Homo sapiens: one gene and its partner. The protein of the gene in region 1 purifies or fractionates together with the protein of each later gene. This does not show direct contact. Each region holds a gene or a part of one and is shown in the gene's direction. Other genes may lie near its edges.

Region 1 (3,653 bases):
TCGAACATGTACCAGCTAACCGTCCTGGTTCACCACTTCCTAAGTGGATGATGTGGACCAGTTCATGTTATCTGAATCCAGGCTGTTTTAGGTATGAACACGGGTGAAATCTGTGAATGGCTGTTCTGATAATTAAAGGCTTCTGTTGTGTCTTTTGACCCATATACTGCTCTTCAGTAGGTGACGTGGATATTACTAGTCCTCAAGAGAGTAAAGTGGATATAGTGGCTTTCACATATATCATCTGCAGAAACAAGCTAATGCGTGAGGTTTGATAACTGGGAAGTAATGCTTCTTCATCATGATTGCTAGGAAATAGGGATCCAGCCATCCGTGGGTCAGGAGGAATGGAGACTGTACCTTCCACATAGATTCACAAGCTGCCCTGCAGTGGCCTTGGCTTCAGGAAAGGAGCATTCAGACGCTTCCGTCAGCCTCCCAGGATGGCAGCCCCTGACCTGGCCCACGGTAAGTCCTGGTGGGGCTCCTTCTCAGAGCCTCTGCTCTAGGTCCTGATACACAGTGTGTGTATCAGGCCCATGGACGGGGCCTGAGTAGTCACGCTCCGGGTTCCTATTGCAGCTGCTGGAGTGAGCCAGAGAATGCTGACCTGTAAGTCAGCCCCAGGGTGTGTGCTTTGGGGAGGGATGATGTGTAAACTCCTTCATGAGTTTTCTCACCACGGGCAAATGAAGAGTCACGTTCCTCAAGGCGTACCGTTCCATATCTGCAATAGGAGCCTGTTACCATTTCCTGATGGGCGGCATAGCTCACAAACATTTTGTGTCACCAGGCGAAACAGACTACCCTGGCACTGTATGGCTGTGTGTGTGTCTGTGTGTGTTTTCCTGAGGCACTGTATGGCTCTGTGTGTGTGTTTTCCTGAGGCACTGTATGGCTGTGTGTGTGTGTGTGTGTGTGTGTGTGTATTTTCCTGAGGGACTATATTTTCCTGAGGCATTGTATGGCTGTGTGTGTGTGTATTTTCCTGAGGCAGTTTATGGCTGTATGTGTGTGTTTTCCTGAGGCACTGTATGGCTGTGTGTGTCTTTTCCTGAGTGTGCAAGAGTACATGGGAATTCCCTCGCTCTGTATGACTGTGTGTGTGTGTGTGTGTTCCTCAGGCAGTGTATGGCTGTGTGTGTGTGTGTTTTCTTGAGGAAGTGTATGGCTGTGTGTGTGTGTGTGTTTTCCTGAGGTACTGTATGGCTTTGTGTGTGTGTTTTCCTGAGTGTGCAGGTGTATGTGGGAATTCCCTGACACTGTATATCTGTGTGTGTGCGTTTTCCTGAGTGTGCAGGAGTACGTGATAATTTCCTGCTAGGATGGAATGACTTCCGGGTCCATGAGTGTGGAATTAGGGTCAGCTCTGGGTTCTCATGCCTTCTTGCCTTCTTTGTTTTTTAGGAGGTCATGTTTCTAGGGACTCAGTCTGCCTTCATGAAGAACAGACACAGGCAGCAGGGATGGTGGCTGGCTGGCTGATAAATTGTTACCAGGTATGCCAAAACTGTATTTTTTCTTAAAATAACATACTGGTATTCAGCAGATAGACAAGTTTCTGTCTGAGCAGACTTGTCTGCACAGCCTCACTCAAGGACCGAGTCCCTAGTTGAACGCCTCCAGGGAGAAGAGCCTGGCTGGTCAGGTGTTACTGTGAAAATCCTCCCCGTATTTCAGTGTTACTTTTTTTTTTTGAGACGGAGTCTCGCTTTGTCGCCCAGGCTGGAGAGCAATGGCCCAATCTCGGCTCACTGCAATCTCCGCCTCCCAGGTTCAAGCAATTCTCCTGCCTCAGCCTCCCAAGTAGCTGGGATTACAAGTGCCCACCAGCATGCCTGGCTAATTTTTGTATTTTTAGTAGAGACGGGGTTTTGCCATGTTGGCCAGGCTGGTCTTGAACTGCTGATCTCAAGTGATCCACCCGCTTTGGCCTCCCAAAGGGCTGGGATTACAGGCTTGCACCACTGCGCCCAGCCACAACATTACTCATTATTTTCACCCTTGTGCCAAATGCGTGTTTCGTACTTTGCTTAGTGCTCTGACACATGGTAAGGAAGGGGAAGGTATCCTCTCTGGGAACTTATTTCCACATCACGAGTTACCACTTGTTTGTAGTGTGCTCAGGAGAGGGACATAAGGCGAGGGGAGTGCCCAGTGAGCGTGGTGAGAGAAGCTCACATGTTAGAGGTGTCGTTGCGGCCGTGTGACTGGAGGAGAGCGACAGGGTGCGCGTGACTGGAGGAGCGCGACAGGGCACGCGTGACTGGAGGAGAGCGACAGGGTGCGCGTGACTGGAGGAGAGCGACAGGGCGTGTGTGCGGGCAGAGAAGGGTTCCTGGGACCACTGGGCCATGGGGTAGACAGTAGGAGGCCTCACAGTCCCATAGGCGTAGGGCCCCGCCTCCTCATTCTTCAGTGAATACCGATGGACACGTTGGAAGGCTCCAACCGTCATGTGTGATGATTTAGGACGCGGTGACCTTTGACGACGTGGCTGTGGACTTCACCCAGGAGGAATGGACTTTACTGGACCCATCTCAGAGAGACCTCTACAGAGATGTGATGCTGGAAAACTACGAGAACCTGGCCTCAGTAGGTGAGGCTGCCACCGTCCTTTGCAACTTCTGTGGAACCAATACTTGATGTGTCCTTACTGTGTTCCAGGGTTGGTGACGGCAAAGCCGAGTACCACGGGAAGTAAGAGATATAACAACTGTGCTAGTAGGCTTGGTGCTAGTGTGGTCGTTTCCAGAATGTGGTCCTGGGGTCATGAGCATCACCGTCACTCCTCTAGAAACATGCATTCTGAGGCTTCAGCTGGGACACATTGGATCAGAATGTCTCCTGGGGGTGGGCCTGTCATCTCTCCTGTAACAAGCCCTCCCGACGATGCCAATTCACTCTAACACTGAGAACCACTGGGTAGTAGTTTCCCAAGTGAATGAAGATCTCTTATTGCACTTCTGTTATTTCCTATTTGAGTAAGAGTCTTTGTGGTTTTTACGTGTATATTTAAGCCTGAATGTGGGCTTCAGGAATCAGAGATAACCAGTTTCTTTGGGGCGCAGAAGGATGGAGTATTTGCACTTTGAGCCCTTTTGAAACAATTTCACTGCATTCTTTAGAAATGTAGTTCCTGGCATGCCACTGCACTCCAGCCTGGGTGACAGAGCGAGACTCCATCTCAAAAAAAAAACAAACGTAGTTCCTGGCCGGGCGCGGTGGCTCATGCCTGTAATCCGAGCACTCTGGGAGGCTGGGTGCAGTGGCTCAGGGCTGTAATCCCAGCACTCTGGGAGGCCGGGCGCGGTGGCTCAGGGCTGTAATCCCAGCACTCTGGGAGGCCAGGCGCAGTGGCTTAGGGCTGTAATCCGAGCACTCTGGGAGGCTGGGTGCAGTGGCTCAGGGCTGTAATCCGAGCACTCTGGGAGGCTGGGTGCAGTGGCTCAGGGCTGTAATCCCAGCACTCTAGGAGGCCAGGCGCAGTGGCTCAGGGCTGTAATCCCAGCACTCTGGGAGGCAGGGTGTGGTGGCCACGCCTGTAATCCCAGCACTCTGGGATGCTGGACGCAGTGGCTCATGCCTGTAATCCCAGCACTTTGGGAGGCTGGGCGCAGTGGCTCACGCCTGTAATCCGAGCACTCTGGGAC
Region 2 (3,653 bases), on another chromosome or scaffold:
AAGCACAGGAATTAAGGACACTGTGGAACGCAACATTCAGATTTCTCCCATCCGGATGGAGGACTGTGTTTGTGCTTCTTTTGAATCTTAGTATTATGATTTTTTGTTTCCTTTCCCCCACACTAAAAGAAAAGGTCATCTTTAGCAAACAGGCCAGCAGTCCTTGCTAGATATTCTTTTTTCTTTGAGAATGAGAAGAGTTTCTATGATCATGGAAAAGTGTTGGGATCATCTGGAAATATGCTGACCTTCAGTGTACCATGAAATGCATTTACATAATATCATATGGCAAATTTATTTAAAGCCTCTATCTTATAGGCTTAACATAAAGATCAGTTTGCTGCTCTGCCCTTTGGAAACTTTATTCCTCTAGAGAAAACATGGTTTGGGCATTTGAGAGCCTCATCACTCAGCTGTCCTTGGTGCAGAAGGGCTACTGCAGTGTGTTCCATGGCCAGAAATGGGGCTGGATGCCTGAGAACCTAGTCAAAGTTTCTGTGAAATAGAATGAGGTGAGGCTGGGTCAAGGTCAGAGAGTCTGGCTGGGTGTCCCCGAGTCCACCTCAGAAGGCAACATTTACTTCTGTGAATTTCCCCCATCCAATATCTGGCTTTTAGTATTGCTGCCTCAGAAACCTGATCTGTCTTTCCGGGCCACGTCACAGTGACCTTGTTCACCTGCATGCCAGCTTATTGATTTGCAGTGGTTGAGACACTGTGTGGCTTGGCTGGTGGGTCTTCTTCCTGCAGACCCCTGTCATAACAGCCAAATCACAAGGAGAAGATCTCCTGAAGCACATTATTCAGAGCAAAGCAGCTTAGATGCGTACCCTAGGGACTGATTACATGCTTTAGGGCCAACCTTGCCAACGGGACTACAGACCAAACCACCCCTAAACTTAATGGCTTAAAACAACAGCCATTTCTTATTTTCTCACATGTCTCTTGGTTGGCTGGGTAGTTCTGCAGTTCTGAGTTGTGCTTGCTTGATTTCAGCTGTGCTTGCTCATGTGATTTTGGTCTGCTGATGGAGTGTCTGAGGGCTGGCTGCTTTAGGATGGCCTCAGCTGGATGACTTGGCTCTGCTCCATGTGGTCACTCATCCTCTGGCAGGCTAGCCTGGCATGTTCACATGGTAGTGGCAGGAGGCTAAGAGAAAGTAAAAGCTTGTATGGCCTCTTGAGGCCTAAGCTGATAACTGGCACTCCGTCACTTTATCTTTGTCTAATGACAAAATTAAGGCACAAGATAGCCCAGAGTGGAAAGTTAGGAAAACAGACTCCACTTCTTGATAGGAGGAGCTACATAGTCACATTGCAAAATGTACAGATACAGGGAGGGGAAGAATTGAGACATTTTGCAATCAATCAATCAATCAATCTACCATAGGGACCTGAATATTTATTTATTTATTTTTGAGATGGAGTTTCACTCTTGTTGCCCAGGCTGAGTGCAGTGGTGCGATCTCAGCTCACTGCAACCTCAGCCTCCCAGGTTCAAGCGATTCTTCTGCCTCAGCCTCCTGAGTAGCTGGGACTACAGGCGTGCACCACCATGCCCGGCTAATTTTGTATTTTTAGTAGAGATGGGGTTTCTCCATGTTGGTCAGGCTGGTCTCAAACTCCTGACCTCAGATGATCTGCCCGCCTCGGCCTCCCAAAGTGCTGGGATTACAGGCGTGAGCCACCGCGCCTGACTGGGACCTGAACATTTAAAGTGCTGTTGGCTAGGTTTCCTTTTCTTCCGGACTCTGCTCGAATGGGCAGAGCCTGTACTTGCTCTTGTGACTGTCTCTTTCTGTGTTTCTGTGGTTGACCATCTAGAGATGTATGTATCTTTAGATAATCATTCATTCACTAAATAAATATTTATTGAGTGGTCTCTATGTGCCAGGCATGTTATAGGAAGTAGACCCATCTCATGAAGCATTCATTCTAGTTGAGGGAGACAAATAATATGTAAGTAAATAATGTATGTTTTATATCAGGTGATTAAGGAATGTTGAGCAGGGAAAGGAAGATGGGGGGTGCCTTGTTGTGTTGGAGTGGGAGGGTAGGGTAAAACGAAGTGTGGGTATTTTATGCAAGGTGGTCAGGGTGACATGAAGGAAGTGAAGGAGTGAGCCAGACAGTTATCTGGGGAAAGACATTTCCAGGTAGGGAGAACAGGTGCAAAGGCCCCGAGGCAACAGATAACTGGCATGTTCCAGGAACAGCAAGGTGGCTTATGTAGAAGGAACTGAACGAGACAGGGTGAGCGTGGGAGAAGAGATCAGAGAAGTAGCAGGGAGCCAGCTAATAGAAGGTCCTGTAGGGCCTTGTGTAGACTTTAGCCTTTATTTTGAGGAAAATGGGACACCACTGGAGAATTCTGAGCACAGGGTGCTATTAGCTGATTTATGTTTTCCAAGGATCCCTTGAGCTTTAGAGCTTAGTGTAGACTCTTGGAGGATAAGGGTGGAAACAGGGAGATTAGTCAGGATGGTACTGCAGTGACCCAGGTGAGAGAGGGTGGTGGTTTGGACCAGGCTGGATAGTACTTAAAATGGTGAGAAGTTGTAATCCCAGCATTTTGGGAGGCCAAGGTGGGTGGATCACTTGAGCTCAGGAGTTTGAGACCAGCCTGGACAACGTGGCAAAATCCCAACTCTACAACAAATAAAAAAATTAGCCAGGTGTGGTGGCACATGCCTGTAGCCCTAGCTACTCGGGAGTCTGAGGTGGGAGGATCACCTGAGCCTGGGGAGGTCGAGGCTGCAGTGAGTCACGATAATGCCATTGTACTCCAGCCTGGACAATGGATTGAGATCATGTCAAAAATAAATAAAAATAAAAAAAGATGGTGAGAAGTGGCTAAATTCATAAAGCAGGCAGGATGTGTGGATGAGTTAGATACTTAGAGTATGAGAAAAAGATGACATAATGAATTTTGACCTAAGCAGCTGGATGGAGTAGCACTTTAGTGAGGTGGAGAGGAAACAGTGATGGGGTTTAATTGGATATCCAATGGGAGATGTTAAGTAGTTCATTGCATATGAGAGTCTAGAGTTCAGGGAAGAGTTTCAGGAAGGAGACATAGGTTTGAGTATCATTAGCATGTTATTTATTTTTCCGTGAGCCAAGTCACTGCTGTATCACTAGTGCCCAGAATATTGTCTGGCACATTGTATATCCTCAATGGATATGTACTGAATGAGTGAATGGAACCACTTACTTACTAGAGTTGACTGCAAATCTTTGCTTTGGTGGATTTTGAAGTGTAACTCCTTGAAGTTATTTCCTTTCTTTACAAGGTCTCATGGGAGCCTTATTGTGGATCTTATGCACTAAAAAGAGGCTTTAAATGTGAAGGCTCCAATCGCTTATATCATACGGAAAGCAACGTGTGGTGACAAGAAAGAAAGAGGAACAAGTGGAAACCAAAAAATAGCTCATATTTTCAAAAAATGAGAAAAGATCCTTTAGAGGGAGGTGGCTGAAATTCAGGGGTGTGATGTTCTTGGGTTATTATTGTACTGCTCTTAATTTAAGATGAGGCAGAAGCAAGGAAGAATCTTGAAAGGGGAGAATTTTATTTAAATCAATTTATGCCGAGTGTCACCAGCTTGCTTGAGAAACCCCACATCTACAGTAGCTTGCATAATGTGTTCCTGT

Evidence for each region.
Region 2: the proteins of ZNF778 (region 1) and SV2B purify together in Homo sapiens (affinity purification with mass spectrometry; one large-scale study listed by BioGRID and IntAct). This does not show direct contact.

The regions. Positions count from the first base shown.
Region 1 is NC_000016.10:89,220,685-89,224,337, forward strand, and holds part of ZNF778 (zinc finger protein 778), read left to right. Parts: intron 1-312; 5' UTR 313-443; coding exon 444-468; intron 469-1,407; coding exon 1,408-1,499; intron 1,500-2,472; coding exon 2,473-2,599; intron 2,600-3,653. UniProt on the Homo sapiens protein: May be involved in transcriptional regulation.
Region 2 is NC_000015.10:91,103,234-91,106,886, forward strand, and holds part of SV2B (synaptic vesicle glycoprotein 2B), read left to right. Parts: intron 1-3,653.